7 separate regions of the Homo sapiens genome follow, and regions 1, 2, 3, 4, 6 and 7 are each linked to region 5. The links come from fine-mapping of genetic effects on gene expression. A gene starts in region 5. Each other region holds a variant in brackets. All regions are shown on one strand. Distances are from middle to middle.

Region 1 (4,060 bases), 47 kb after region 5:
TTGGCCTGAGGCCCTTGGTTCTCCCTGAAGCCGGCTGGCTCAGGCTGGCTCACTGCATCCTGGATGCCTGGGGGCCAGGGTGACCGGCCTCTGTGGTTGGCGGGCGGGCGGTGTCTGCTCCACTCAGTGCCCTTGAGTGCTGGGTGTGGTGGCCGAAGGCTGGGAGGTGGAGATGGTGCCCTGGGGGCCACCTGTCTTCTCAGACAGTCGTGAGGAGTCTTCTCAACTTAAAAGCTGGAGTTTGAACCAAGTGGTCTTTTAGGCCATTTTTATTGTTGTTTTCCCTGTTTAGTACTCTTTGGGGAAGAGTCAAGATTATGTCACACCAGCAGGGGTGCTAAATCGGCGGTGATGATCTGAATTTATTAATTTACAAAACTTTGTCAATTTGAGAAACACGAGTAAACGCTGGTCTCTCCCTGCTGTGGAAGTTGTCACATCTGTTACTGGCCCTCGTTCCATGAGTTGATTTAGTGCTTTGCAAGAATTGTTTTCTGTCTGCTTGTTAGACTTTTCCTTTCTCCTTTACATCTCCAAAGTGCACAGTGCATCCACGTGTGGGCAGGCGTCAGACATCCTTTCTTTTGCCTGTGCTGGGAACAAGTTGCAAGGCTGACTGTGGAAGGGCCGCTCACCTGGGGCGTGGTCAGGGCTGCCAGGTGTGGTGGCTCACACCTGTAATCTCAGCACTTTGGGATGCTGAGGTAAGTGATTGCTTGAGCCCAGGAGTTTCAGCTCAGCCTGGGCAACATAGCAAGACCCAGTCTCTACAAAAAATACAAACATTAGCCGGGCCTGTTGGCACATGCCTGTGGTCCCAGCTACTCAGGAGGCTGAGGTGGGAGGATCACTTGAGCCTGGGAGGTCGCGGCTGCTGTGAGCCATGATCATACCTCTCCCTCCGGCCTGGGCGACAGAGTGAGATCCTGTCTCAAAAGAAAAAAAAAATTAAACTCTCTTATCACTGTCCATCTAAATAACAGAGAGAGGCTCTCTGAAAGAAATGATGTTTATCTGGGAGCAGGGCATTGGAGTAGGCAGATACTTGCCATGGTCTACAGTGCATAGCTGGGGAGGCCAAAGAAGACAAAGGCTTTTAAAGGAAAAATGAGGATCACATGATTGTTTTGAGATAATTATCCTTGCCACAAGGATCAGCACCAAGGATGATACCAGGCTGGAGGTGGGCGGGCGGTTGCTGGGCAGATGTCCTCACAGTGTGTTTTGAGTGAGGCTGTGATGGCCTGTGTGCATGGCTGTGATTTGCACATCTTTGTGATGGATTTGTTTTTCGCAGGCACACTAATGTGTGAGCCCTCCCTTCATGGCCCTCCCCAGCTCTGTTTGTTAGGGTTTTTAACACAAGTGATTCATTTTGATTCTGACAGCCTTAATCTCACAAAGCCATGGGTTCATTCCCCACCCTTCTCAAGAGCAGAAAATACAGAATAGCAAATCTATAATGAGAACAAAGTCACTCATTGCTTTAGCAGTGGACTGAACATTTCCCGTTATTGCTGTTGCCGCAACACACGTCTGCATGCCGTACAGGTGCCCTGCGCTCCCCATTGTTGGGCAGTCAGTCCCCCGTGTTGTGGCCTCCGTGTCGTGTGTCTCATGAGCACTGCCCAGCGCCTTCTCAGGCCTCCCCTCTGCCGGGGCCGCACACCTGCCAGGAGCCGGGCGCTGTGCTGGGCAGCAAGTTTTCAGACAGCATCAGACGAAGCGAAGGGCGCTGCTGCTGTCGTCCCATGGCAGTCCCCTGGGGGAGATTCCTCATGGCTGACAGCGGTGTCACTGGTGGGAAGGAAAAGACCCAAAGACTGGGAGAGAGGACGCTGGGGAGTCTTAACTTAGACGGGGGCTTAAAGGTCTCTTACAAGAGGGGTTGTTTGGGTTGAGGGGTCAGGGGAGGGAAGAACATGCACAAAGGCCATGAGGCGGGCGCCCGGGGTGTGGACCCAGAGCGTGGACACGGACGCCAGCCTAAGCAGGAGGGAGCGGGGGTGGCAATTTATCAGTCACCACAGAAGAGCACGCTGGCAGGACACTCAAGGTGCCTGCCATCAGGAGCAGAGACACCAGGAAGCCACATCTGTGTCCTAATGGGACCACAGGTTCCCTCCAAAGAGTGTCTTACAGGCTGATTTACAGAAGGCAGGAGCTGGCGGGAGCCTGAGCTGAGCCCCATGGGAGCAGCAGGCAGGTGCAGGC[A/AGGTGCAGGCC]GGTGCAGGCCGGTGCAGGCCAGTGCAGTCCGTTCTCCAGCCTCGGAGGCACGGCGTGCACGGGGGCCTGCTCCTTAGTTTGAAAACAAGCAGTTGTGCCACTAGTGCCTTGGAGTGAGCTGGCAACTGTGGCGCCTCAGCTTGGAGTGTGCTTGACACCTGTGTTGGCCGGTCCATCTGGCACCTGGCCGCTGTGCTTCTAGGCCTCTGCCTGCCGGCTGCCCTCTGCTGGGCATCGCCACTTTCAGGATGACAGCCTTAGAGCCTTCTCTCGGCCTGGTGGGGGCCCAGTGGTGGCGTCCCTCCCCGAGCATCCTCTCGTGTTCCCGGCAGCCACAGCCCCTGGGTGCTGGACCTCTCACCTGCCAAGAGGATAGTGACACCCCTCTGCCCGTCTTTAGGGGCTGTGGGCGGAGGGGAGGGTGGAGAGATGGGGGTGTGGGCAGGGACAAGGGTCGAGAGATGGGGGTGTGTGCGGTGGGGAGGGGACAAGGGTGGAGAGATGGGGGTATGGGGGGAGGGGACAAGGGTAGAGAGATGGGGTATGGGGGGAGGGAGGGTGGAGAGATGGGGGTATGGGGGAGGAGGGGACAAGGGTGGAGAGATGGGGGTACGGGGGGAGGGAGGGTGGAGAGATGGTGTGGGCGGAGGGGAGGGTGGAGAGATGGGGGTATGTGGGGAGGGGACAAGGGTGTAGAGATGGGGGTGCGGGGGGAGGGAGGGTGGAGAGATGGGGGTATGGCGGGGAGGGGACAAGGGTGGAGAGATGGGGGTGTGGGGGGAGGGAGGGTGGAGAGATGGGGGTGTGGGCGGAGGGGAGGGTGGAGAGATGAGGGTGTGGGGAGGGGACAAGGGTGGAGAGATGGTGTGGGGGGAGGGAGGGTGGAGAGATGGGGGTGTGGGGGGAGGGGAGATGGGGGTGTGGGGAGGGAGGGTGGAGAGATGGGGGTGTGGGCGGAGGGGAGGGTGGAGAGATGAGGGTGTGGGGAGGGGACAAGGGTGGAGAGATGGTGTGGGGGGAGGGAGGGTGGAGAGATGGGGGTGTGGACAGAAGGGAGGGTGGAGGATGGAGGTGTGGGCGGAGGGTAGGGGCTGCAGAGGCCCCGGGGTGTGGGGTGGTGTGGGGCTGGGCCGTGACAATGGGTGGGGTAGGAAGGACTTTTCAGTTGAGGAGGAGCAGCGCAGTGCAGGGAGACCCAGGCGGGAATGGGTCTGAGGACATGATGGGGTGTGTCAGCGTGGTGGTCAAGGAGAGGGGAGAGGCGGGAGGGTGGCCTGCTCCATCTGCTTCCAGAAAGGTGCAGGCATGCTGTAGGTTTCCCTAGGGACTCTCAAGGAATTGTGGCAAGGTTTTCTACAAGACTCTTATGCAGGTGGAGAGACAAAAGTAGCTGCAGAGCCTCAAAATCTTGACATAAACAGGTTCCCTTCCTTCAAGCCTGAAATTGGTCACTTAGGATTCCAAGTCCTCAGGAAAGCAGAGCTCCCAACTGTGATGCTTTTTGTTTTTAAGAGGTGGCGACTGATTTGCTGGAGCCAGCTTCTCATCTGGGGAAGTGTCTAGCATAATGATGGGCACAACATAGATGTTTGTCGAATTGAATTAATTCTGGTCATTTCCTGGAGGAGGAGAGACAGGATGTTTTAATAGCCAGTTATTTCCTGCGCCGGAGTTGGTTGGGTCTTCAGACACCAGCTGAATGCTTAGGGATTCTTTCATTTCCTAAAGTGCTTACAAAATTATGAAAAAGCACGACTTTGCTGAAAACCTGCCTTCATCTTTACTAATCATCATACTAGTCATCTTTACTCTCAGTGTACTGTGTCCACTTTCCAAGCACCCTTG
Region 2 (4,060 bases), 91 kb after region 5:
CATACTTTCAGAGAAATTGGTCATGACTTTTCCTGACAAGATTACTTAATTTGCAAAGAGATCATTTATAATTACCATGAATCTTACTGCTTTTGTTTAATGAATATACCTGGGAGTGAGAGAGCTGTGCACTGTGTAAACTGGGGTCCAGCCACCTGTATGTGAAGGCCAGAGGCTTCCCTGCCAGCACCCAGCACCACTTTGTACACCACAAAGTTTTATTTGTCAAAAAATAGTCGTAACGTCACCGTTCAAGGGCGGTTGACTGCTGTTAGCTTTGGATATTGTTCCTTTGTGGCTAGTTACGTCTTTTCAGTATTTAAGAGTGTATTTTCACAGATCTTACATTTTAAAGAAAATTTTACATATTTGTGATTATACCATGATATCATTTTGCATTATTTTTTCCACTTGCATTGATGACATAACTTCTAAAAGTTCTTGTCAGAGATATAATGTCCCTTTTTGAAATGAAGAAAGGAACCGCAAGGTGCCCTCTCCTTCCCTGCCCTTCCTGATGCTGAGACAAGCCCTCAGTCCCTCTGCCTCCTCCTCAGCTCCACTCCTGAGCACAGACAAGCCCAGCCGTGGCCTGGAAGCGACACTGATGATTAGTATATCTGTGCTGAGTGCCGACTGGATGCTGTGCTGAGCCACTGTGGTGGGTGTCTTGATTCCTGTGACCACCTTGGGAGATCAACATCATGGGATCCACTGAAAAGTCTTGCTGGCTTGCATTAGTCCTGCTCACAGCACCATTTGTAGGTGACGGTCTTCAGGAGTTCTCCACAGTCGTTTTTGAATCTCAGATCCTGAGGAGACCACCTCAGTTCTCTGCTGCTCTCTCTCTCTCCTCCTTATTTTCTCTGCCCATCCCTCTGTACTGTGGTCAGTGTAATTGTTTTCAGTTCCATCTTCCAGTTCCCAAATCCTCTCTTCAACTGCCTAATCTCTGTTTAGCCTTCCTATTGAATCTTTAACTTCACTTACTGTATTTTCACTGTCGGACATTCCATATGGTTCTGTTTCCGACCTGCACTGTGCTCGTGTTCTGCTTCAGCCTTTGTTTCTCGACAGCTTCACAGATGGTTACTCAACGCTCTGCATTAGATTGTTCCCATGTCTGAGACTCTGCTCATTGTTGTCTCTGCTGATACCCACTCATGCTGGGCTTCTCCTTGGGTTTTTCATAGTGAACTCATATTCGAGTGGGCTCACTATCTGGAACTCCTGAGGGCCCCTGTTGGGCTGTTTTCTTTCTGGAAGGATTTGCATTAATATATGTGGCTTCCAGGAGTGTTGCACCTAGGACAACACTACTCCCCGAGGGCCATGGCTGAGCTGGATGGAGGATCTCAGGTTGAGGGGACAACCGTGCTGTGGCTGAGGCTCACTGCGGGCTACCCGGCCCTAGTGGCATTGGCATTTTCTAACTGCTTCCCCCTCTGTTCCTTCCTCGTCTCTTTTCAGGGATTTCCCTTTACTCTTTTTGGAGTAGCGGTATATTAAAAAGCATGTTTGGGTGGGGCATGGAGGCTCACACCTGTAATCCTAGCACTTTGAGAGGTCAAGGTGGGAGGATTGCTTGAGGCCAGGAATTCAAGACCAGCCTGGGCAACAGAATGAGACCCCATCTCTACAAAAA[A/T]TACACAAAGTAGCTGAGCATGTTGGTGAACTCCTGGATCCCAGCTACTTAGGAGGCTGACATGGGAGGATTGCTCAAACCCAGGAGGATTGAGGCTGCAATGAGCCATCATTATGCCACTGTACTCTATCCTGGTGACAGAGCGAGACTGTCAAAAAAAAAAAGTATGTGTATCTCTCTACTGTCTTTAAAATAATTTTTTCCATAAATTTAAAGCTGTTTGAAAAGGTAAAGTTTACTTTTAAAACAGCTCTACACTTTACCTGCATCCGTGCACTGTCTTAGAGCCTCCCAGAGGCTCTGGTCTAGCCCTACGTGCCCGCAGCCTGTGCCCATCACAGGAGCAGCGATGGCCCATGCCCATATTCTTTGGCCTCTCAGTGGGCATCACACACTCCCTGGCCACCTTCTCCTTCAGTCTGTTTGGCCTCTGGGACACTCCTCTCTCCTGGTTCTCAAGTTTCAGCTAATTTGGGGGATGTAAATGCTGCGTGTATAGAGGTTTTCTAGAGCACTTTGTTCGGCCTGCCAGATTCTGAGAATTGAATTTTACTCATGAGCGTGACATGAAGTGAAACACCTCCTTCATATTTATGAAGTTTACATTTTATGATTTATCTTTCAGATCTTATTGACAGCATTTCTGATTTTGTGTATGGCCTTGTGGATTTTCTTCTCATAATCTCAAAGGTATAGATTGCCTGTGATATTATTTATTTATTTTAAGACGGAGTCTCACTCTCTCACCCAGGCTGGAGTGTAGTGGCACGATCTCGGCTCATTGCAACCTCTACCTCCCGGGTTCAAGCGATTCTCCTGCCTCAGCCTCCCGAGTAGCTGGGATTATAGGCATCTGCTTCCACGCTCGGCTAATTTTTATATTTTAGTAGAGACGAGGTCTCTTCATGTTGACCAGGCTGGTCTCGAACTCCTGACCTCAGGTGATCCACTCACCTCGGCTTCCCAAAGTGCTGGGATTACAGGTGTGAGCCACTGCGCCCAGCCTTCCTGTGATATTATTTAGATTGCGACATGATTGTGGATGATTTATTGCGGGCATGGAAGGAATGACAGCCTTCCAAAATGTGTATGTCAGCATCTGTGACGTGGCTGCCCCAGAGCCTCTGATAAAAACCAGTTCCTGCGGCTGAGGGCCAAGGGCCACATGGTGGCTTCAGGGGTGTGTGCTCTTTCCCCTTCCTGGCCAATGAGAGGACAGTGAAGAGATGGATGCAGGCTGCTGTGTGTTTTCACTACTGGGAAGTGGGTTGGGGGGCAGGACCCTCCGAAGCTGGCCCCAGGTGGTCTCACACAGTGCCTGTCAGGGGGCTTACTTTGGGTGCCAGAGGACAGACTCTGCGGGGGAGGAGGATGCGCATAGCTGGTGTAGGTCGCAGGGCCAGGGCTGGCAGTGGACCCCGGATGGCCAGGCTGCGTCGGGGCATGGTTGCCCTTGCCGGCAGGCTGGGAGGCAGGGCTGGGGCCCTGTGCCGAGGTTGGGGTGGTCAGACAGGATGTGCAGAATTCCAGTGGGTGTACCGCTCGTGTTAAAACCCATACAGTGTGTGTCCCGGAGGGCCACACGGTAGGGGCAGCAGCTGGAAGCCCTGGCTCCTTTTCCTTGGTCCCCTCCCCCTTGGGAGGTTCCTCTGGGCCTCACTTGTTTGGACTTTGGCGTGGGGGGGTCTTAAAGCCCCAGTGACCTCCACTTCTCGGGAGTGGCCAGGAGGTACCAGGTTGCCCATCACGGCAGCACCTTCTCGTTCGCTCCCCTGGCCCTGGCAGCCCTCGCCTTGGCAGAGAGGAGGACAGAAGTGGGTCCTTGCCAGGCCGTCTGGGAGGTCCCCGCAGGAAGGGGTTCCTGCCTAGATAGCAGCAGAGTGCCTGCCCAGGGATCAGATCAAACACGGGTTTGTCCAGCCTCTGGAGCTCCATTCTGCTCACCCCCTCTCACTTCCTGGCATCCGTGTCCCCTGGTGAGCCAGCCTCTTCTGATTCCTCTCCTTCCTGGGCTGAGTCCTGGGCTTGTCCCGTACCTGCCTGACGGCTCTGCGCCCTGGGCCCTTCCTGCCAGTGCAGTGCCAGGTCGCCCTGATCAGGGCTCCCGTTGGGGCCGCCGTGGCTTCCTGTTCTTTTCGGCTTCCTCCTGGCTCAGCTGACTGTCTCGAGTTCTCGGCCTCCTCCTGGTCACGCTGGCCTTCCGGTACCGCCTGCCACCCCTCCTTCATAACTTGACTTGTCTGTTCTTGTCCCTGGTGCCTTTAAGCCAGCCACCCTGCTCTCCTCCAGCCCCTTCCACTGTTCCAAGCCCCTTCCTCGGAGGCGTCTCCCCAACCCTCCTGCTGGTGGCCGCTCTTGCACTGCTTGGGTGGGCGGGCACCAGATCCGGGGCTTGGCTCTGGGCTTGACTCCTCT
Region 3 (4,060 bases), 98 kb after region 5:
CTGCAGCCCCTGCTGCCCCTTCTGGTGCCTCAGGCAGAAAGAGGCCCCCTCCCCCACACCCTGCCCTCCACGGCAGTGACAGGAGCCTGGGCGGGGTCGGGGTGGGGGGGTGGTCCCAGGGAAACTCTGGCTGTGTTTCCACACAGAGATCTTTTTATAGGCTGTGGTCAGTGGGAGACTCAGTGCACTGAGGTGGGCCTGGGAACTCCAGCACCCCAGTGTTTTTATGGGAAAAATGCTCCCCGAGTTCCAAGGAGGGACTGAGGAGTTGGCTTGGGGAGCAATCTGCTCAGCTGGGCTGTCTCTGCCTGGTCATCCTGTCTAGTTTTGGTGATTAATAGATCACTCACTTAGAAATATTTTGTGTTCAACGAGCCGTGCCAGTGAGAGAGTTCGTGTTCATGCCACGGTTTCATTCTGTGACGCGTATCGTGCTTTTATAGCTTAGGCTCTCGCTGGAGAGTTTTAGTTTTGTGGCTCGGTTTTAAGGAAGTTGGACTATGCTATTTTGGCAATCTTTGTCAAGTTGGAGTGTGTTTTTTCACTTTTTCAGAAGAAAGGGGCTGATAATGGCCACCCGTTTGTAGCCAAAGAGTGCCCTCGGGAAAAAGGGTTACAGCTGGTCTCTGGGGGGCACGGCAGGGCTGTGGGTGGGGGCAGGGAGCAGATTCCAGCTGGAGAGAAGGAAGCACATTCTAGCATTATAGAGAGGCTTAGCAGGGGAATGGTCTGCCTTGTGGGAAGTTATTCAGACAGAAGTGTGAGGTCGAGCTGGAGGGAGATGGGGCGTTGTGAAGAAATGAGAAAAGGAAGATGCCCGGTTGCTCCTGGAAAAAGGAACCTCTCACCTCTCCTGGTCTGGCTCTGCACAGAGCTGGAGCCGCGGCCGCACAGAAGCCCGTTCTTGTGGCTTCCTCCGTTGGTCAAGCTCTGTGCCAAGAGGCCTGCCAGAATCCCCTCACCCACTGCAGCCTCCACAGGTGGATGTTCCCGCTGTGACCACCTCACCTTCTGAAGTCGGGGTGTGGAGACTATCGGGGAGCTCCCAGAGCGCCCACCTCCTCCTGCGTACGGCGTCTGTGCCAGCAGGAAAGCCGGGGAACTGTGCGGCTCTGGCTTTGGGGGACGGTGGCAGGTCCACATGACACCCCACATACATGACCCCGGTGCTCCAGCTGCTTCTCAAACACTCCGTTCTCGCAGCCTCACCCTGGGGACCCCCGACACGTACTAGTCGCAGTCCTCCATCCCCATGTCCTCCTCATGCCTTGTGCCTCAGCTCTGCCCTGACCCCACTCTGTCCACTCAGCTGCCCCCCTACTCGTCCTCCATGCAGACCTCAGTCTTGGCCCTGTCTCTGCAGCCATCCTCCCGCTCCCTTCTCCTGAACGCTGGTGGTTGCCCCCACAGCAGCAGCAGTGATCTGCCCAGCCCCTGCACTGGACCCCTCCACCAGCTCAGAGCCCCTGTTCCCCCAACCATCCTGCGTCCCACCCTGGTCTCCAATGGTGCCTCAGGCACATGCGGTTTCCCTCTTCCCTTCCTGACCACCTGCCCCCATCCTGAGCGATGGCCACTGTCAATTTCCTGCCCGTGCTAGGGGCAGCTTCCATCATTTTAATTATTCATCTGTGTTGGTGCTTTTGTCCCCCCAGCTGGTGTGACCTCCACGTGGCAGGTCAGAGTTGTCCCGGCACCCGGCACAGCGGCTGGCACGAGAGCTGTCTGTTGAGTGAATGATCGGGTGTTCAGCAGACATCAGCCAGAGCGTCAGGGCGAGGCTTGGGCGGGGACAGTGGCTTTCAGTGATTTTCCTTTTAGTCGTGAAACCTTCTCAAAAAGCACACACAAGCACAGAAGCAGAAACTCCTGTGTGACTGGTGTTGCGGGGTGGACCCACTGCCGCCGCCTCCTCCTGGGCTGCTCT[G/C]CGCGCCTGCCAGGCTCTTCCAGTGCCTTCACCCAACACGCGGGCCTTTGGAGCTCAGACCTGGCCATGGCGGAAGATTCGGGCTCCACCTGCAGCTCCACAGCTGACAGGCCGATCTCTTGGGGCAAGTCACTTTCTCTCTCCTAGCCTTGTGTCTTCATCTCGCCGGTCCTTGTTAGCGAACAGGCACTGAGGCCTGGGGAGCTGTCACAAACGGCTGCCTGATGGGGGAGGGTTACCGTAATTGCCGGATTAACTTGGGGGACTTTAAACTGCATTCCTCTTTAAAATATAAAGTATAATTGTTGATATTTTTGGCAAATGCCAAAATTTGTATTCTATACAATTTTGAAAGAGAAAGGGAAAAGCTTGAGAGTAGAACCATCAGTACTTACATAGAATTAGTTGATAAATTTACATTTTCCTCATCAGAAAAACAGTGCAGCCTAATTGCACATTTTCCAAAAATGTTTGCTAAATAGCAGAAACAGAATGTTAATTTGTAATGCGCTATTGTGGGAGTGGTTGTTTTAACCAGAACCCTTTACTTGATTTAATATGTCACATTCTTTTGGTTTGCTTTTGGACTTCAAAATGATGCTCAGAATCACACAGTGTATTTGTAGGGTGTGGAATACCGTATTAGTATTTGTAAACAGGAGTCAGACTGGAGATTTTCAGTTTTGGAAGTGTGGAGACTTGATTTCTGCCAGGATGCCTTCCGATGTACTTGTTTCTTTCCAATTCTACAAGATATTTGGAGAGTTTTTATTACTAGTTTTTAATATTGTGAAATTATTTTTTCAAGCAAACAAATTCAAAGGTAATAAAACCACTAACTGCATACCTATCTTCCAGAGTTAACGTGTGCTAGCCAGGGGGCCTGTGCCTGAGAATTGACTCAGGGCTGGGGTGACCACAGAAGCCCTTGGTGCCCCTGCGGCTGCATCCCCTCCCCAGAGGCCACACTTGGAAGCAGGCGCCACCCCTTCCCACTCCAAGGGAGTTTCTTAGTTAGATTCTTGGGGAAAAGATAAAACAAACGAAGAACTCCTCTCATGCAACCCTAGGCGTGAGAAGCAGTGTCCGCCCTGTTTGGTGGTCTGGAGGCCATGTCAGAGAGGGCTGCCTGGCGTGTTTGGGGGCCTCGTCAGAGAGGGCTGCCTGGGGTGTTTGGGGGCCTCACCAGAGAGGGCTGCCTGGGGTGTTTGGGGGCGTCAGAGAGGGCTGCCTGGGTGCTCCAGGGAAGCTCCTCCTGCTCAGCTTCTCGGTCTGGGAGGATGTTCACCTGCAAAACTCCACCAAGCCATATGCTCATAATCTGTGCACTTTTCTGTATATCTTAATAGTTTACTAAAATAATTAATATTTTAAATTTCTGGAACTTTTAACCTAAGGACTTTCAAAATGGTCTGAAAATGTTAATAGATTTGCTCTCAGGAGAGTATGTATGAAGTTTGCAGAAAGAAAGCATTATGTAGATTGGATTGAAAATCAGATTGGCCAAAATGATTTAAGGAAAAGGTCTAGAAGTAGATCCTGAGTGTGGGGAGAGCTCAAGGGCTTTTCTCAGGGACAGGACCTGTGCAGTTTTATGCAGTTGAGGAAGATCCTTCCCCTACCCCCAGGCTAGATAGACTGTGGGAAGAGATCCCCTCTGGGCATACCACCTAACAGAAAGCTTTTAAGACTTTCTCCTTATTGTCGGTTTTCAGCAATTTGATTATGATGAGTCTCAGGTTGGTTTTTCTGTGTCTGTTGTGTTTGGGATTTGTTGGGGTTCAGGTATTTTTTTCATTGTTTCCCACTTTTGAGACTCTAATTATGCAAGCATGTTAGGCCACCTGGTTTTCCCTTCAGCTCATGGAGGCCGTTTCATGTTCAGGCTTCTGTGTCGCCTGCATGCTTGCCATTTCATTGTTTCTCTTGCTCTATCCTGCAGTTCACTGATCTGTCATTTTAGTGTCAGATATACAGCTCATTCCCTCCTGTGAGGGAATTCCTGCCGATCAGCCTGTCATCTCAGAGACTGTGTTTTCATCTTTAGCAGTTCCTTCTATTTTTTTCATTTCTTTCTACTGATTCTCTTCACGCTTTGCTTTAAAACCCCAAAAATGTTGGCTGGGTGCAGTG
Region 4 (4,060 bases), 140 kb after region 5:
CCTGGGAGGACCACCCTCTGCCCAGAGGCAGTGACCCCGAGAGGCAGGCGTGGATTTGAGGGTGCCCCTTCCCAGACCACCCGTCTCAGGGCCTTCCTCTACCACCCCTCCTCGGGTTCATTCTGCTCCCGACTTTGAGGACTGCAGCTGCAGCTGGGACCCGGGCGGGTGCTTCAGATGCTGACCAACCGGAGGAGGGGGCCAGTCCTCAGAGGGCCCCAAGTGTTAAATTGAAAGCCCAGGCCAGAGAGTCCCACAGTTTCCTACTCAGACGGCATCAGCGCGTAACCGTGTTGAGTCAAGCGTCTCGTTTGTTCAAGTCTGGACCTCACACAGCGTGGTTTTTAGGGAGTACACAGCTTTTTCAGACTCCTGAAGACAGAGTATGCTAGAAGCCCCAGGGCTGTCCCTTCCGCTGTCTGTGGGAAGATAGTGTGGACGGAAAAGGGCTCTTGTTGACCCACAGCTGATAGGGTGTTAGGACAGCCCAGGATGAGAGCTTTCTAGAATGTTCTGCGGTGACAGTCATTAATGTGAAACTCTCTAAAACACGGTCACTCTGGGTTTTCTTCCAATAGAGTTTTTTGAGCTTATTTCCAAAGCTCAGAGCAACAGAGCAGATGACCAACGTGGGCTGCTAAGGAAGGAAGACCTGGTGTTGCCAGAGTTCCTCCGTTTACCTCCTGGTTCCACAGAACTCACCCTCCCCACTCCAGCTGCTGTGGCCAAGGGCTTTAGCAAGAGAAGCGCCACAGGCAACGGCCGGGAGAGCGCCTCCCAGCCTGGCGAGCAGTGGGAGCCAGTCCAGGAGAGCAGCGACAGCCCGTCCACCAGCCCGGGCTCAGCCTCCAGCCCCCCTGGACCTCCTGGGACGACCCCCCCCGGGCAGAAGTCTCCCAGCGGGCCCTTCTGCACTCCCCAGTCCCCCGTCTCCCTCGCGCAGGAGGGCACCGCCCAGATCTGGAAGAGGCAGTCTCAGGAAGTGGAGGCCGGGGGCATCCAGACGGTGGAGGATGAGCACGTGGCCGAGCTGACCCTGATGGGGGAGGGGGACATCAGCAGCCCCAACAGCACCTTGCTGCCGCCGCCCTCCACCCCCCAGGAAGTGCCAGGACCTTCCAGACCAGGTACCTCCAGGTTCTGATCCCTCCACCTTGGCCCCGTAAGCGTGGTCTGCTCAGCTTCCAGTCAGAAAGGACAGTGGGCCCCCGGCTGCCACTGTTTGCTGGTGGTCTCCGTGACCCCCTCCTCACCTGCTGGTTGGGGGCTTCCTTGGCCCTCTTGGAAAGGAGGGGCTCGTGTGGCCCCAGGCCAGTGTCTGTCAGGATGGTCCCCCCGAGGCGCTCTGGGCAGGCATCCTGGTGTCCTGAGAGGCTCTTGCAGGAATGATACGTGGCAGTGCCTGCAGCGAGGTCTGGGAACACCCTGGGTGAGGCCTGGGGGTTTCCGAAAATGGAGGCATTCCTTTCCAAATCTGGACAGCGATCGTTTTTAGTGTTTCTGTCTCAAGACTGGAAAACAATAGCATTTGTCTTGAGTGAGGAAGTGAAGCCCGCTGTGTTCATAGCAGGAGAGGGCTCCCAGACACAGGCCCGTCCTCGGAAGAGCCTTGAGAGTGCAGCTCGGACCCACCGGCGGCCCCCGTAGCAGGTGGTGTGGGTGCTCGGGAGTGGAGGTGACGTCAGCAGCGCTCTCTGACCGCGGGTGTCACGGGCATTTCTCAAAGGAAGCAGGGGATTCAGTGAGTGTGAAGGTGAACAGGATGGCCTGGCAGCAGGGATGTTTCCGTGAGCCACAAATACCAGAAACTGAGGCGAGGCTCCCAGCAGCCGGTAGGGAAAGGTGTTTCCAGGGGTCCGAGGGCCGTGGCCTGCGTGGCCATCCCCTGGAGAGAGGAGCCGCTCAGGGTGCGCGTCATGGAGTGTGCTCAGGGGTGCGTGGACACCTCTGCTGTGGTTTGCTGCTGGGGGCGATGGGAGCGCCTCTCCGTCCTGTGCCCTGGTCCAGGATGCTGACAGCAGTGAGAGGCCTGCCGTGAGGTTTGGTCTTGTCAGACCTGTAGCCTGGACCTCGCCGGGGGACCAGGGAGTGCACGTCTGTAGATCTGTACATATCTGGGCCTTTGGAGGCCACGTGTGGCATGGGAGGGGCTACCTGGTCCCTTTCACAGCCAGGACACGCCTGGATGAGAAAGCCTGAGGTGCCTGGCATGCCCACCGGTGCCAC[T/A]CTGCAGCCTCCACCCCTGGCCTGAGTCCCCCTCCATCCGTCTTGGTGGACACCTGTGTGGCTCTCACCTGCGTTTTGAGTCTGTTCTTCCAGGAGTAATAAATTCTGGACATCATCACTGGACTGGCTTACAACTTTTCTTTCTCATTTGAAACTTTGTTTCCACTTTAGAAAATAATAAAAGTATTTTAATCTAGGGGAAATATCACACATTTTTAGGAGATTAAGTGGATTTACCGTAATCTACTGGCTTTTAAAAATATACCATCCACTGAACAAAACTCTTGAGCACCTGGTGTGCTCCCAGCAGCACAGCTGTGCGGCGGGACAGCAGAAGAGCTGGTGGCCCGGTGGCGGGTGCTGAGATGAGCTGGCCTGCTGGCCTTCGGGCTGCAGTCCCGCACCCACACCCCGGCCCTGCAGCCCTGGGGCTGTGGCTGGCTCTGCGCACAGGTGTGGCGTGTGTCAGGCTGCCTGGGAGGGCCAGACAGACCCACGTGGGGGGTCAGTTCTCCTGCCTGCCAAGGGCCATTAGCACAGAGGTGGTTTACAGCGCAGGCCCAGCTGAGCGCCCCGGCTGACATCCCTGACTTGTTTGTGGCAGGAGGGTGGGTGGTACCGGCCTTGGGAGGAGCAGGTCCCCCTGCGCTCTGGTGGCTGCCCCGACTGCCACTGGCCAGAACTGGTTCCCCGCCCCGCTGGCTCCTCAGCCCCTGGGCAGGTGGGTACCCTGGATCCTTGGCTCTTGGGCTGTCTCCTAGGAGGAGACCCAGTGAGTGGGAGAAGGAGGTGGGAGTGGCTTTGGCCATAGGTCGTAGGTGTGTGTCCTCCACGTGCCTGTCCGTGGCGACACAGGACAACTGCTGAGGACCTGCCCAGTCTTCCTGTGATGTTGGCTCAAGCCTGCTGGGGGGCGTTGGGACAGAAACTGCTCTGTGCAGCTTGCTTCTGGAACCCCCACTCTAATGGGATTCTCTGTATTGGAGAGTTCACCTGCCCATGGCGGCAAAGGAAACAGGCTGTGAATGCCGTGGTGGCCTGATGGAACCTCTTTCACATCTGTGGGCCGGGGCGAGCCTGGACTGAGTGCTGACCTGTCCGTTTTCAGGGTTTAGGAGCTTGGGGGTCATCCCGGGTCACGCTCTCCGACGTTGACAGTTGCTGTGGGATGCTTCCTCACAATGTGGCAGCCGCCCTGGACCCAGCGTCCGGGGTGAGAAACACAACAGGAGGTGTAGCCAAGCCCACGGGCTCCCGCCCTCCCCATTGCCATGGTGGGCAGCATGCCGGCTACGCGTGGGGGCTGCCAGCAACAGCCTTGAGGTAGGGGGAGTCTCCACAGAGCTGTGCCACACCACTTTGCCCTTCCAGCCTCAGTGCCATGCACTGTGCCACCCTGTCCTAGCCCCAGTGCCACATGCCACACCACCCCATCCTAGCCCCAGCACCACGTGCCATGCCACCCTGTCCTAGCCCCAATGCCACATGCCACACCACCCCATCCTAGCCCCAGCACCACGTGCCATGCCACCCTGTCCTAGCCCCAGTGCCACATGCCACACCACCCCATCCTAGCCCCAGCACCACGTGCCATGCCACCCTGTTCCAGCCCCTGCGCCACGTGGTGCTCCACCACGCCCTTCTAGCCTCAGCGTCATGCACCGCACCGCCCCATGCTTCTAGCCCCAGCGCCACACGCCACGCGGCACTCCACCCCGTCTGTCTAGCCCCAGCACCACGCACCGAGACCGAGACCATGCACCATGCAGGCTGGCCGGTGCCCCCATGCATGTCTGGTCCCGGGAGGCATGTGGGTGGGTCTCCTTTCCCTTTG
Region 5 (4,060 bases):
CATGAGGCACCTGGAGGCCGGGCAAGTGTAGAGGAAAAAGCCAAAGGGAAAGAAGAGACCTGCAGGTGGTGTTTCCCCATCTCTCACTCAGGGCCACTTGTCCCTGCCCTGGAGCCTCAGGAGGCTGAGCTCTGCGGCCTGCTTCCTTCTGGCTTGGCGCTGCTCTGGAAGATTCCACCATCTGCGCATAGGCAGGAGCCAAGAAGGTCCACAGTTTTGGGGGGGCCAGGGTGGGGGCAGTTTCTTTCCTGGCTCTTTTTTTTTTTTTTTTGAGATGGAGTTTCACTCTGTCACCTAGGCTGGAGTGCAGTGGCACAATCTCGGCTCACAGCAACCTCCGCCTCCGGGGCTCAAGTGATTCTCCTGACTCTGCCTCCCAACTAGCTTCGACTATAGGCGCGTGCCACCACGCTTGGCTAATTTTTTGTATTTTAGTAGAGATGGGGTTTTGCCATCTTGCCCAGGGTGGTCTCGAACTCCTGAGCTCCGGCGATCTGTCCGCCTCAGCCTCTCAAAGTGCTGGGATTACTGGCACGAGTCACCGCGCCTGGCCTCTTCCCTGGCTCTCTCTGCTGGGTCATCAAGGGCTGGCTGTGTCCCTTGGCCATAGGTCGCAGCTCCTGTTAAGTATCTCTCTCTCTTTGTCTGGCTTCCTGTAACCGCTCTGGCCGCGCTCCTTCAGCCCTGCAGGTGAAAACAGTTCCCTCCCTGCTGTTACCTGTCCCAATTCAGCACCGCCCTGTGGCTTCCCGGCTCCCGGACCGCGCCTCTGCCAGCGGGAACCCTGCTGGACTCTTAATTAATTGTCCCACTGAGAATGCCATTGGTTTCCTCCTGGGATCCAAACTAATCACACAAGACTAGATGATGGAGAGCTGCCAAGAAACCATGGGGCGGTGGCGGGGACGGAGGGGAAGCGTTTTGAGCCCATCAAGGCAGGTGACAGGAAAGAAGCAAACCCGAGAGGGGCCGAGTCCCTGGGCGGGCGGCAGGGCTGGAGCGTGAACAGCAGCGACGGATGCGTCTCGAGGGAAAAACGCGGCGGGAGAGAATGAGGGGAAGGCAGGAAGGAAGGGGCAGGGAGACCCAGCGCCGGGGAAGGAAGACACGAAGAGGGCGAGGAAGGAACTCCGGCCTAAAGGGTGAAGGCGGCGGCTGGGACAGGGCCAGAGGCGCAGGCCGGGGCCGGGCAGCTCCTCCTCTCGTGCCAGCGGTGCCTCCGGTCCCGCCCTCGCTGCTGCCCGCGCTCCGGGAGGGGCAGACCCGCTGGACGCCGCAGTCACCGCGCCGCCTTCGCGGGCGTCCCGGGGCCCGGAGGGAACGGCCTTTCCTGGCTGTCCCCGTGGCTTCGCCGCGGGAACTCACGCCGCCCCCGAAGCTGCCGCCAGCTCCGGGCATCTGCCCAGCCGAAAAGCCAGGGCGCCGGGGCCTGACTCCCCACAGCCAGGTTTCCCGGGCACAGAGACCCAACGGGAGCGGGACTTCCTCGGACACCGACGGCGAAGGACAGAGACAGCCCAGGCAGGGGCGGCTCCTCCCGGCCACACCGACCTGCCCTTCGCAGGGTGTCCCGGGCCAGCGGAGGCAGAGAAAACCAGCTTGCGGGAACGCAGTCGCTCCCAGCACCAGGGCCGGGCCAGTGCGGGTACACACCGTGCGCACCAGCGCCGCCGCGCCCCCAACGGAAGTCCCGCCCCCGGCCGTGGAGGCCCCGTCCCTCGCTTCTTCTCATCCCTGCTTCCCTGGCAGTCCCGTTACCACGCTGTCCCGACGCGAAGGCCCTCGCCCCGCCCCGTGCCCCGCCCCCGCATCGCCCCGCCCCAACCCCACCCCCTTGGCCCCGCCTCACCAGGTTCGCCCCGCCCCTCTCCGTCCCCGCCCCTCCTCCGGCCTCGGCCCCGCCCTCGCCTCGACCCCGGGGGGCGGTGGCTGCCGAGGCGACCGTTGCGCGCGCGGGCGGTGGCGCGGGCCGAAGCGCCCGGAGCGGGAGCGAGCGGCGCGGCCCGGTAGGTGTGCGGGGCCGGGGCCGGGGCGGGGGCAGGGCGCGCCGCCTCCGCTCTTTCTTTCGTCTCCGGGGCGCGCGCCCGCGCCCTCCGCCTCCCGGCCGATCCCGGCCAGCCCTGCGCGGCGCCCGTCCCCTCGGGGTCGCCGCCCGCCCGCCCTGCCTTTTGTTCGCCGGCCTGACTCAGGCTCCTGGTCCCGGGCCCGGCGCGGGGCGGGGCGGGGCGGGGGCGGGGGCGGGCGGCGCGGGGCGCGGGCCTGTGGGGCCTCCGGCCGGGCGGGTGCGCGGCCTCCTGGGGCCCCGCGCTGTGAGGCCCGCCCGGGCCCTTGGCGGGACCCGCGGGGGCGGCGCCGGGCAGGGGGTCCCGCGGGCGAGATGCGCCCGGGAGCGCTGGGAGGGTTCCCTCGTCGGACTCCACGAGCGGCCGCTTTGTTAGGGCAGAAGCTGCCTTCCGAGACCCGAACTCCAGACGCACTGCAGCGACCTGGGGTCGCCTCAGCCGCGGTGCCGCGATTGTGCAGTGTAGACAGAGGGGTCCCAGAGCCGTGCGGTGTAGACAGAGAGGGGCCCAAAGCTGTGGAATGGGGACAGAGAGGGGACCCAGAGCTGTGGAGTGTAGACAGAAAGGGCGCCCAGAGCCATGGAGTATAAACAGTGGAGTGTAGACAGAGAGGGGGCCCAGAGCTGTGGAGTGTGGACAGAGAGGGGGCCCAGAGCCGTGGAGTGTAGACCGAGAGGGGGCCCAGAGCCGTGGAGTGTAGACAGAGAGAGGGCCCAGAGCCATCTAGTGTAGACAGAGAGGGGACCCATAGCTGTGGAGTGTAGACAGAGTCTCATAGCCGTGCAGACAGAGAAGGGGCCCAGAGCCATGGAGTGTAGACAGTGGAGGGTGAACACAGAGGGGGCCCAGAGCCGTGGAGTGTGGACAGAGAGGACCACCTGGCCTCTCACCTGCTTGGTCACTTGCTGGGAATGTGTCCCTGGGCAGGTGACCACCTTCTCTGTGCCTGAGTTTCCTCATTGGACCTGTCTTTGGAGCTGCTGCAAGGGCTAAGAGTGTCTTTGTCTGAAGTCCTCAGCGTGGTCCATGCCGTCCTGTGCAGGGCCCTTCTGAGGCCACAGGGACGTGCAGGATGGCCGGCAAGGCCTGCACAGAAGGGGCGCTGGGGGGCCTTCCCAGGCAAGGCAGCAGCCCCACCATTCACAGCAAGGAGACTACCAAGGAGGGCAGAGAGGCGGCTTTGGGCAGCAAGGGCTGCTGGGGTGGAGTCCTGCTGGCCTTCCCCTAGAGAAGGCGACGTGGGGAGGGCAGAGCAATTCTGAGTAAGGGAGAACCAGTTTATATTTCACTTTAGAAAGTAATTGTCACAGTGCGAAGTTTCTTCCCCTGAAAAAGCGATATAAAAAGGTCCATCGTGGCCAGTGCTTTTGGGGACTTGAGATGATGGGTATCCGGTGCCCGGGCCCTGCGTGGTGCCTCAGCTGGATGCTCTGCAGGTGGGGGAGGCCATGTTGGCTGAGGGCAGGGGCTCAGGCAAGGGCAGTGGGGTGGCTGAGCCTGCACAAGTTGGTGCACCCCTGTCTGGGTCTTTTTCTTAAAACTGCAAGTCCAGCCTTATCTCTGAGACCTCCTGAGGCTGGAACCTGCCATCAGACAGGCTTACAGTTCTAGCCCTGGTAACTGCAATGATGCGGATGCCTCTGTGACTGGCAGAGCAGAGGGAGGAGCGACAGGGCAGTGGTGACCGGAGGTCTCAGGGAGGTTGACAAAGACAAGGGCGGAGGAAAGGCCCCTCACGTGGACTGGAGGTACAGTACTGACCTGTGGAGTGCTCAGGAGAGGGCAGGGGTGGCGCGGCCTGAGGGCATGTCCTGGGGAGGGTCAGGAGGTGGGAGGGAGGCACTCGACAGGCACTGCAAAGAGGAGGGAATCCAGGGTCAAGGGCTGGCTCCCTTTCTGCCCTGTTTAGGATGAGGGTCTCGGGGAAGAAGGGGTGGCCAGGCCGAGGAGACCTGTGGCGCTGGGAGCTGGGACTCAGTGAGGTCCTGGAGGTGGTG
Region 6 (4,060 bases), 24 kb after region 5:
ACTACACAGCAGGCCCGAGACCATCCTGAGAGGCCTGTGTGCAAGGCTGGCCCCCCGCTGGTGTCAGGACGGTGCCCACCACCCTCAATGAAGAGGGGCTCCCTGTGCTTAGCTGCTTGTGTGGGGAACAAGGTTTGTGCTGAGAACCTTCCTTTCTTCTGGGAGTCCAGAGTCTGGGCACGAAGCAGGCAGAGGGTGCCCATGTGCCCAGCCCCCAGTAAAAACCCTGGCACCGAGTCTCTAGTGGGCTTCCCTGGTGACGACACTGCACATGCGTTGTCACGGCTCACTGTGTAGGGAGTTAAGTGCGTCCTGCGTGACCCCGCTGGGAGAGGATTCTGGAAGCTCAAGCCTGGTTTCTTTGGGACATCGCCCCATGGACCTCTGCCCTTGCTGATTTTGTGTGGAATCCTTTCGCTGTAATGAATCTCAGCTGTGAGAGCACCTTTGTGCCAAGTCCTGGGAATCCTAGGGAATCACTGGCCTGGGGGTGATCCGCGGACCACTGACAAGTTTGTTCTCAATGACAACCAATACTTTTATACCCCCTGGAAGAATTGAGTTAATATGACATTTCTGCTTTTTTAGGTGGTGGTTTTTATCTAGCCTGTTGAGTGGCCTCTGCAGTATTGATCGAGGTTGTTTCAGGCTAATACGTTTTCCCCCACACAGTATATTCAAAATAAATTAATGTGGGAGGGTCATGGAATATTAGGTGACCCCTCTCCTGAGGGAAAACTCTATGTCAGGGGATTTATGATCAACTAAGGGGTTAGACTCAGTGTTCTGCAGGTGCCTTTGAACCTGAAGCCTGTAGCAGGCCTTGCTTCTCACGCTTGGACTCTGCCATCCTGTGAAACGTGGGTTTGGGTGTGTTTCTTCTGTGTGGAGCCCGAGAGTCTGCCTTTCAGACGGGCTGCCAGTCCACGGACCACACTTTGAGTAGCAAGGGGCTCTTTCCATCCAAACAGGGTGTGGAAGCAGTGCTGGGAAGCAGTCCTGCATCCTCACACCCGTGGCAGGTGGGCCTGGCAGGAACTTGTGTGGTAACAAGGTAGCAGTTGTGGGAGACATTTTCTACTCCGAAAGGAAGTTTCTTAGCCTGACTTGAAGATTTATTATCTATAGACACTTAGAGGCTCTTTCTGTGGTGGTTTTTATTATGAATTATCTTTTTGTGTTTAGCTAATACCAGTGAGTGGTGGAGAAAGATGGGCTCTTTAATAATGAGCTGTTCGTTTTTCTTTCTTAGGGCACTGTTTGAAGAAGCAAACATGGTAGCATCAAGCATTCCTTGAAATATGGCTCCAAGGGAACAATGAGACGTGCTCTTGGTCTTGGAAGCTCATCAGAATGTTTAGAGCTGGGGAGGCCTCCAAACGCCCATTGCCTGGGCCGTCGCCCCCAAGGGTGCGGAGTGTGGAGGTTGCCCGGGGGAGGGCCGGCTACGGATTCACGCTTTCGGGACAGGCACCCTGTGTGCTCAGCTGCGTCATGAGAGGGAGCCCTGCGGATTTCGTGGGCCTCCGAGCTGGAGACCAGATACTTGCTGTCAATGAAATCAACGTGAAAAAAGCATCTCATGAAGATGTAGTGAAATTAATTGGGAAGTGCTCTGGTGTCCTTCACATGGTGATTGCTGAAGGCGTCGGCCGCTTCGAATCCTGTTCCAGTGATGAAGAAGGGGGACTCTATGAAGGAAAAGGCTGGCTGAAGCCCAAGCTGGATTCTAAAGCACTAGGTATAAACAGAGCAGAGCGAGTCGTGGAGGAAATGCAGTCTGGTGGAATTTTCAATATGATTTTTGAAAACCCGAGCCTTTGTGCGAGCAATTCAGAGCCCTTGAAATTGAAACAAAGATCCCTTTC[A/G]GAGTCGGCCGCAACTCGATTTGATGTTGGACATGAAAGTATAAATAATCCAAATCCCAACATGCTTTCTAAGGAGGAAATATCAAAAGTTATTCATGATGATTCGGTTTTCAGCATTGGACTAGAAAGTCATGACGATTTTGCATTGGATGCAAGTATTTTAAACGTGGCGATGATCGTGGGCTACTTAGGCTCCATTGAGCTTCCTTCCACGAGCTCCAACCTGGAGTCCGACAGCTTGCAAGCCATCCGCGGCTGCATGCGGCGCCTGCGGGCAGAGCAGAAAATCCACTCGCTGGTGACCATGAAGATCATGCACGACTGTGTGCAGCTGAGCACTGACAAGGCTGGAGTCGTGGCCGAGTACCCGGCCGAGAAGCTGGCCTTCAGCGCCGTGTGCCCGGACGACCGGCGATTTTTCGGGTTGGTTACCATGCAGACGAATGACGACGGGAGCCTGGCCCAGGAGGAGGAGGGCGCCCTGCGGACTTCCTGCCACGTGTTCATGGTGGACCCAGACTTGTTTAATCACAAGATCCACCAAGGCATTGCTCGGCGGTTTGGGTTTGAGTGCACGGCCGACCCAGACACCAATGGCTGTCTGGAATTCCCGGCGTCCTCCCTCCCCGTCCTGCAGTTCATCTCTGTCCTGTACCGAGACATGGGTGAGCTGATTGAGGGCATGCGGGCCCGCGCCTTTCTGGACGGGGACGCCGATGCCCACCAGAACAACAGCACCAGCAGCAACAGTGACAGCGGCATTGGGAACTTCCACCAGGAGGAGAAGAGCAACCGGGTCCTTGTGGTGGACCTGGGTGGGAGCTCGAGCAGACACGGCCCCGGAGGCAGCGCGTGGGACGGTGTGGGTGGGAGGGGTGCCCAGCCCTGGGGTGCTCCCTGGACTGGGCCCTTCTGTCCGGACCCCGAAGGGAGCCCCCCATTTGAGGCCGCTCATCAGACTGACAGGTTCTGGGACCTAAACAAGCACCTAGGGCCAGCCTCTCCTGTGGAGGTGCCCCCAGCTTCCTTGAGGAGCTCAGTCCCCCCTTCCAAGAGGGGCACCGTGGGTGCTGGCTGTGGTTTCAACCAGCGCTGGCTCCCGGTCCACGTGCTCCGGGAGTGGCAGTGCGGACACACCAGCGACCAGGACTCTTACACAGATTCCACCGATGGCTGGTCCAGCATCAACTGCGGCACACTGCCCCCTCCTATGAGCAAGATCCCCGCAGACCGCTACAGGGTGGAGGGCAGCTTCGCGCAGCCCCCGCTGAATGCCCCGAAGAGGGAGTGGTCCAGGAAGGCCTTTGGAATGCAAAGCATTTTTGGTCCCCATCGAAATGTTCGAAAGACTAAGGAAGATAAAAAGGTAAGCCTGCCAGGAGCCACTCAGCGCGGAGGCCCGGCCTCCTCACTTAGCAGTCACGGGGAGGTGACTCCCAGTCACCAGCTTGCACAGTCCTGGCTTCCTCCTGCTGGCCCTGTGGCCTCTGTGGCCATCACAGGGTGTCTGCGTTGCCTGTGGGCTGCGGACTGTGTCTTGCTGGGACCTCTTGCCCCCTGCCCTGTTCGAGTCCTTGGTTCTGGTTCTGGCTCTGATGGCTGGTCCTGGGCAGGACATCTGGGCAGGACTGGTGGTGGCGAGAGGGAAGTTGTTGTCTTGGAGCTCAGGATAAGGCCCTTCCTCCCCTTCCTGCTCCTCCCTAGCTCTGTCCCTGTGGCTCCTTGAAGCCCATTTTAGGTCTGACCCCAGAATCTTCATCCCAGTGTCCCACACCCCTCTTGAGGCGAGAATATTCTTGAAGCACTGAAAGCTGGTTCCTCGTGCTGTTTCCTCCATGGGGAATATCCTGTTGTGTAAAACACCAGCTGGACTCCGCAGTGGGCCTGGGGAGCCCCACGCCGCCTGCTCACTGAGGGGTACCTCAAGGTGTGTAGTGCTGCCTTGAAGACCTGGACCCATCAGCATCCCTTTGGGGGCCCTGCCTTTAGGAGCTAAGTTTGGAGCAGGAAAGAGTAAATGAGCAAAGCTGGGAACCCTCTGGAAGGGACTTTGTCCAGCAGGAGGCGGTGCTGCCAGTGTGGGAGTGTGCGGGGCTGTGCCTGTGCGGTTGGGTGCAGGGAACCCTCTGGAAGGACTTCCTCCAGCCAGAGGCGGCGCTGCCGTGTGGGGCTGTGCTGTGTTTGGAGCCAGG
Region 7 (4,060 bases), 130 kb after region 5:
CTGGCTGTTGCCACAGTTGGGGGTTTCCAGTTAGGCCCAGAAACTACATTTGGGGATGAAAGCTCCAGATGGAATGGAGGAAAGGCCCTTACCGGGACATGCACCTGGGTCTGTGCTGTGTAACTGCACGTACTGATGTGATTTGTTGGGCACCTGCCATGAGCCAAGCATGTTTTGGAGCCAGGATGTGGCAGTAGACAGGGCAGAGAGTAGCATCTCTGCTGCATGGTGGGTAGAGCCTTGTTGGTCCCTGACTGGCTTCCAGGGTTAGGAAGACACATGTGACTCGTCTCCACCAGAGACGGCAAAGTGATGCCTGGTGGGGGATGGGTGGGGGGGGCTTCCTGGCGTCTGTCTGCTCAGCCTAAAGGGGGCAGAGGGTTGGGAGATGTGACCGAATAAACAGGGTTCTGATTGACGTGAGTCACTGTGTTTCCCCTGTCAAGACGCCCTGCATGCCAATGGAGGCCTGTGTCGCCGAGAGTCGCAGGGCTCTGTGTCCTCTGCGGGGAGCCTGGACCTGGTGAGTCACTGTCTCCCCTCGTCCCACAGGCCTCAGGGGTGTCCCCACCAGCTGACTGATGACACCTCTCTCCCATGGAAACCTGTGTTTACAAAACTCAGCGTTCACTTTGTAAAGCTGGGGGACAAGGCTCGGGTGCCGGCCCAGGCACAGTGGCAAAGTGCAGGGTGGCCCAGTGCCCCATCAGGCCCCGGCCTCATGGTCCCCCAGCCTAGGGCTCCTGAGAGGGCACGAAAAACTATTAGTTATACGAGGGAGGGAACTCAAAGTATCTTTGGATTTATTTCTTAAGTCTTTTTGTTGTAATTTAGTTTTTGTGAACTCCCACTAAGAATCAACAGAAGGTGTCGAAATCAGGCGCTCCCTGTCTCAGCGCGTGAGCATCCCACCCACTCCCACACTGCAGGATTTACCCCTCTGCCTGCGGGCCGCCTGTCTCACCCACACCCTCTCACACCTGCTCACTGCTTGGCTGGTGCTCGTCCTGGCCCCAGTTTCCAGCAGATGAGGGAGATGAGCAGGCGCAGGCAGGACTCGTGAGCTTGTTAGATGTTGTTTGATAGGAATTTTGGAAAACCTCACTGGTTGCCAGCATCCTGGTCATTTGAAATTTTCAGGCAGGAATGAATGTAGAATATAATTTCTTCTTCAGTTGTTCCAAATAACATTGAAAGCTGTAAGGATTTACCAGGTATCAGTTAGCTCTTGTTGCCTAATACCTCCGCACCCCCAAACTCAGAGGCTGGAAACAATTACTGTTGTGCTGGGTGTCTGGGTCGCCTGGGTGGTTCTGCCCATTCTGGCCGGCCTTGCCGTGTGTTTCTGGTTACCTGGCACGTGAGCCAGCTGGCTGGTCCCAGAGGCCCTCAGTTGCATGGCTGGCCCTTGGCTGGGGAAGGAGCACTGACAGGACCCTTCGTTCGCCTCACTCAGCGGAGGCCAGTTCACCCCGTCCCACAGCCGGCTCAGGGACCCTGACAGTGAGCAGAGTAAGGA[C/T]GGCCTCTGGAGGCCCAGGCTTGGAGCCGCTCCTTCTGCCCACCCAGGTCTGGGCTGGGGCTGACTCCACCTCTTCATGGGAGGAGCCACAGAGCCGCATTATGAGGGGCACAGATACAGGGAAGGGGATGGTTGGGAACCACTTGTGCAGCCAGCCTACCACTGTACAAACTAGTTTCCTGAAATAATGCTCAGGGAAAAGAGACCTCAGACTACCGGAAGGCAGTGCCGACGAAGTCACAGTCCAGGCGACGTTTCCATTGGAACGATGTGCATGGGGAGCTGTGTATAGAGAGGACAGGGTGCTGGAACCCAGAGCCCTGGGAGGGAGTGGTCCTCACAGGGCAGCTTCAGTGGGCCCCGCAGGACAGCCCTGCTTCTGGGTGGAGAAGCCCAGATGTGCCTTCTGAGCACGATGGCCCTTGAGGCCCAGAGCTGAGAGAATGATGACCGCTCTCTCGTGTTAATTCACAAAACCCAGCACCTCAGGCAGTGTGGACTGAGCCTGAGATGTGTGCACCTGGGGAGCTGCAGGTGGGACCGTGGCAGGGCGCCAGCCTCCCCAGCACGTGCGGCCTGGGCCAGCTGGGCTGCTCTGGGAGGTGCCCCGCACCCCTGTGACGCTGGTTCCCTCACGGCTGCTTGTCTCGCTGCTCCCCAGTCGGAGGCCTGCAGGACTTTGGCACCCGAGAAGGACAAGGCCACCAAGCACTGCTGCATTCATCTCCCGGATGGGACATCCTGCGTGGTGGCTGTCAAGGCGGGCTTCTCCATCAAAGACATCCTGTCCGGACTCTGTGAGCGGCATGGCATCAACGGGGCGGCCGCGGACCTCTTCCTGGTGGGCGGGGACAAGGTACTGGGCCCGCCTGACCCTCGTGCTGCCCTCAGGCCATGACCTCCCCGCTCCCTGGCCCCCAGCTTTGTCAGAGTCCTCAGGCTGCCCCCTCCTGCGCTCCTCATTTCAACAGCGCCTGGGGCGGAGGCCGGATTATCTGAACTGAGCTATCTGCTGGGAGCACTTTGCACGTGGGTGCTGGGTTGGTGTGGAAAGGGTGATCGCTTTCTTTGGATGGCTGTTTTTGAAGCTGCTCTTCTGCTCTGCACAGCTGTGTGCCTGGGGCACGTGGGTCTGCGTTTGGGGGGCTGCCTGCTGTGCCCACGTTGATTCTGGTCTCTCTGTTCCTCAGCCTCTGGTGCTGCACCAAGACAGTAGCATCTTGGAGTCAAGGGACCTGCGCCTAGAAAAGCGCACCTTGTTTCGGTAAGAGGAAGATCGCTGTCATTCACCTGAGGCTCCCAGAGCCAACCCCGTGTGCCCACCACCTGCTGGTCTCTGCGCTTAGCGGGCGGCCTGTGGATGCTCCATGCTGGGCTACGATGGGGTGTCGGGGCGGGGGGAGGGTGGAGGCCCACACGAGGCAGCCCCCCTACAAGCCCGGGGGTGAGAGGCGCCCTCTCCTCCCTGTCCCGTGAACAGGGACTGCCCTGGCCTGGTGAGCCCAGCCCCCTAAGATGCCGAGAGGGAGGGGCAGGAGTGCTCTCTGTAGGGTGGATGCCCCACAGGTAGCCAGGCTGCTGTGCAGGACACTGCTATCCCTGGAGGAGGAGACCATAGCCCTTGCTTGGCCTGACTTTTCCCACGTGGAGGAAGGCACGTTCTGATCAGCTGGGGCTGAACTGGGGGGCACACCGAGGCCTTGAGGGCGGCCTGGGGCTGTGCTGTAGTTCTGCTCGTGAGACTGATCTCCTAATGAGGGCTGACATGAGTTGGTAGTGAATTTTTTCATCCCCCACCAGGCTGGATCTTGTTCCGATTAACCGGTCAGTGGGACTCAAGGCCAAGCCCACCAAGCCCGTCACGGAGGTGCTGCGGCCCGTGGTGGCCAGATACGGCCTGGACCTCAGTGGCCTGCTGGTGAGGCTGGTGAGTGTTGCACGGGGCCCGGGCGTCGTCACCGCAGGCACTGTCTGTTCCCTTTGGCAGCCTCTGTGTTGTTCACTGAAGAGGGCACACCAAGAAGCGGTGTCTTCCCCTGATCTGGTTGTCCCCCTTGGAGGAGAGGAGACAGCCTCTGCCATCCCCAGTTCTCGTTCTGTGCAGTGGGAGCCATCATGGTTTATTTGTACCTTGGTCATTCCAAAAAGAATTGATATTTGAGAGGTGGTTTTGCTCCAGGGAGGCCAAAATGAGAAACAAAGCAACCAACCCTGGACTATCCTCCGCTGTTGGCCAATGTGATCAGATAAGAGAGTGCGGATGGCCCTGCCCCCACTGCACCTGCTGGGCCCGGGCATTGTGCTCATGCCCCCAGTGCACGGTCACATGGAGATGTCCTGATTCTCACCTGCACTTTGTAGATGGAAGAACTCAGCTGGCATTTCCAGGCTGCGCCATTATGATGTGAATGGGGTTAAGAAAGAAAACACCGCGTGGGGTGGTGACCGCAGGTGCTGGGCAGGCCACGCGAGATGGCGAGAGCTGGGCCCCGCTGAGGGTGCTCTGGAGCGTGGGGGTTCCGGGCACAGTGTCTGCCTAGT

Direction of the effects. Alleles are on the strand shown, and positions count from the first base shown. SD is a standard deviation of normalised expression in the study named. Not every link is listed here.
With allele C in place of T in region 7, the expression in prefrontal cortex of the gene that starts at base 1,928 in region 5 is higher (small effect, 0.27 SD a copy in CommonMind).

The links. PIP is the estimated chance that this variant, and not a neighbour inherited with it, causes the effect. A credible set is the group of variants that fine-mapping cannot tell apart.
Region 1: its variant is the best candidate, but not a certain one, in a credible set for the expression of RGS12 in CD4 T cells (CEDAR, PIP 0.88).
Region 2: its variant is the best candidate, but not a certain one, in a credible set for the expression of RGS12 in pancreas (GTEx, PIP 0.88).
Region 3: its variant is the best candidate, but not a certain one, in a credible set for the expression of RGS12 in unexposed skin (GTEx, PIP 0.67).
Region 4: its variant is the best candidate, but not a certain one, in a credible set for the expression of RGS12 in cerebral cortex (GTEx, PIP 0.79).
Region 6: its variant is the best candidate, but not a certain one, in a credible set for the expression of RGS12 in whole blood (INTERVAL, PIP 0.52).
Region 7: its variant is the best candidate, but not a certain one, in a credible set for the expression of RGS12 in prefrontal cortex (CommonMind, PIP 0.64).

What each region holds. Positions count from the first base shown.
Region 1 is chr4:3,338,548-3,342,607 of GRCh38, forward strand. All of the region lies in intron 2 of RGS12 (regulator of G protein signaling 12), which reads left to right. Among named protein-coding and RNA genes, the nearest start is that of RGS12, 48 kb to the left of the region's middle. The variant A/AGGTGCAGGCC (reference allele first, on the strand shown) is at 2,215.
Region 2 is chr4:3,381,804-3,385,863 of GRCh38, forward strand. The region is part of intron 3 of RGS12 (regulator of G protein signaling 12); the gene reads left to right. Among named protein-coding and RNA genes, the nearest start is that of HGFAC, 58 kb to the right of the region's middle. RefSeq lists an enhancer at 3,781-3,860. The variant A/T (reference allele first, on the strand shown) is at 1,646.
Region 3 is chr4:3,388,661-3,392,720 of GRCh38, forward strand. The region is part of intron 4 of RGS12 (regulator of G protein signaling 12); the gene reads left to right. Among named protein-coding and RNA genes, the nearest start is that of HGFAC, 51 kb to the right of the region's middle. RefSeq lists an enhancer at 260-409. The variant G/C (reference allele first, on the strand shown) is at 1,928.
Region 4 is chr4:3,429,829-3,433,888 of GRCh38, forward strand. It overlaps RGS12 (regulator of G protein signaling 12), which reads left to right. Exons shown (of 18, transcript NM_001394154.1): 17 at 579-1,127. Among named protein-coding and RNA genes, the nearest start is that of HGFAC, 10 kb to the right of the region's middle. RefSeq lists enhancers at 3,240-3,741, 3,742-4,060. The variant T/A (reference allele first, on the strand shown) is at 2,227.
Region 5 is chr4:3,291,094-3,295,153 of GRCh38, forward strand. It overlaps RGS12 (regulator of G protein signaling 12), which reads left to right and starts at 1,928. Exons shown (of 18, transcript NM_001394154.1): 1 at 1,928-2,006. RefSeq lists silencers at 1,234-1,343, 1,524-2,003, 2,014-2,063 and an enhancer at 2,717-3,302.
Region 6 is chr4:3,314,818-3,318,877 of GRCh38, forward strand. It overlaps RGS12 (regulator of G protein signaling 12), which reads left to right. Exons shown (of 18, transcript NM_001394154.1): 2 at 1,253-3,234. The coding sequence starts at 1,354. Among named protein-coding and RNA genes, the nearest start is that of RGS12, 24 kb to the left of the region's middle. RefSeq lists an enhancer at 2,540-3,094. The variant A/G (reference allele first, on the strand shown) is at 1,869.
Region 7 is chr4:3,420,196-3,424,255 of GRCh38, forward strand. It overlaps RGS12 (regulator of G protein signaling 12), which reads left to right. Exons shown (of 18, transcript NM_001394154.1): 10 at 447-523; 11 at 2,181-2,375; 12 at 2,710-2,783; 13 at 3,320-3,446. Among named protein-coding and RNA genes, the nearest start is that of HGFAC, 20 kb to the right of the region's middle. RefSeq lists enhancers at 223-724, 3,991-4,060. The variant C/T (reference allele first, on the strand shown) is at 1,520.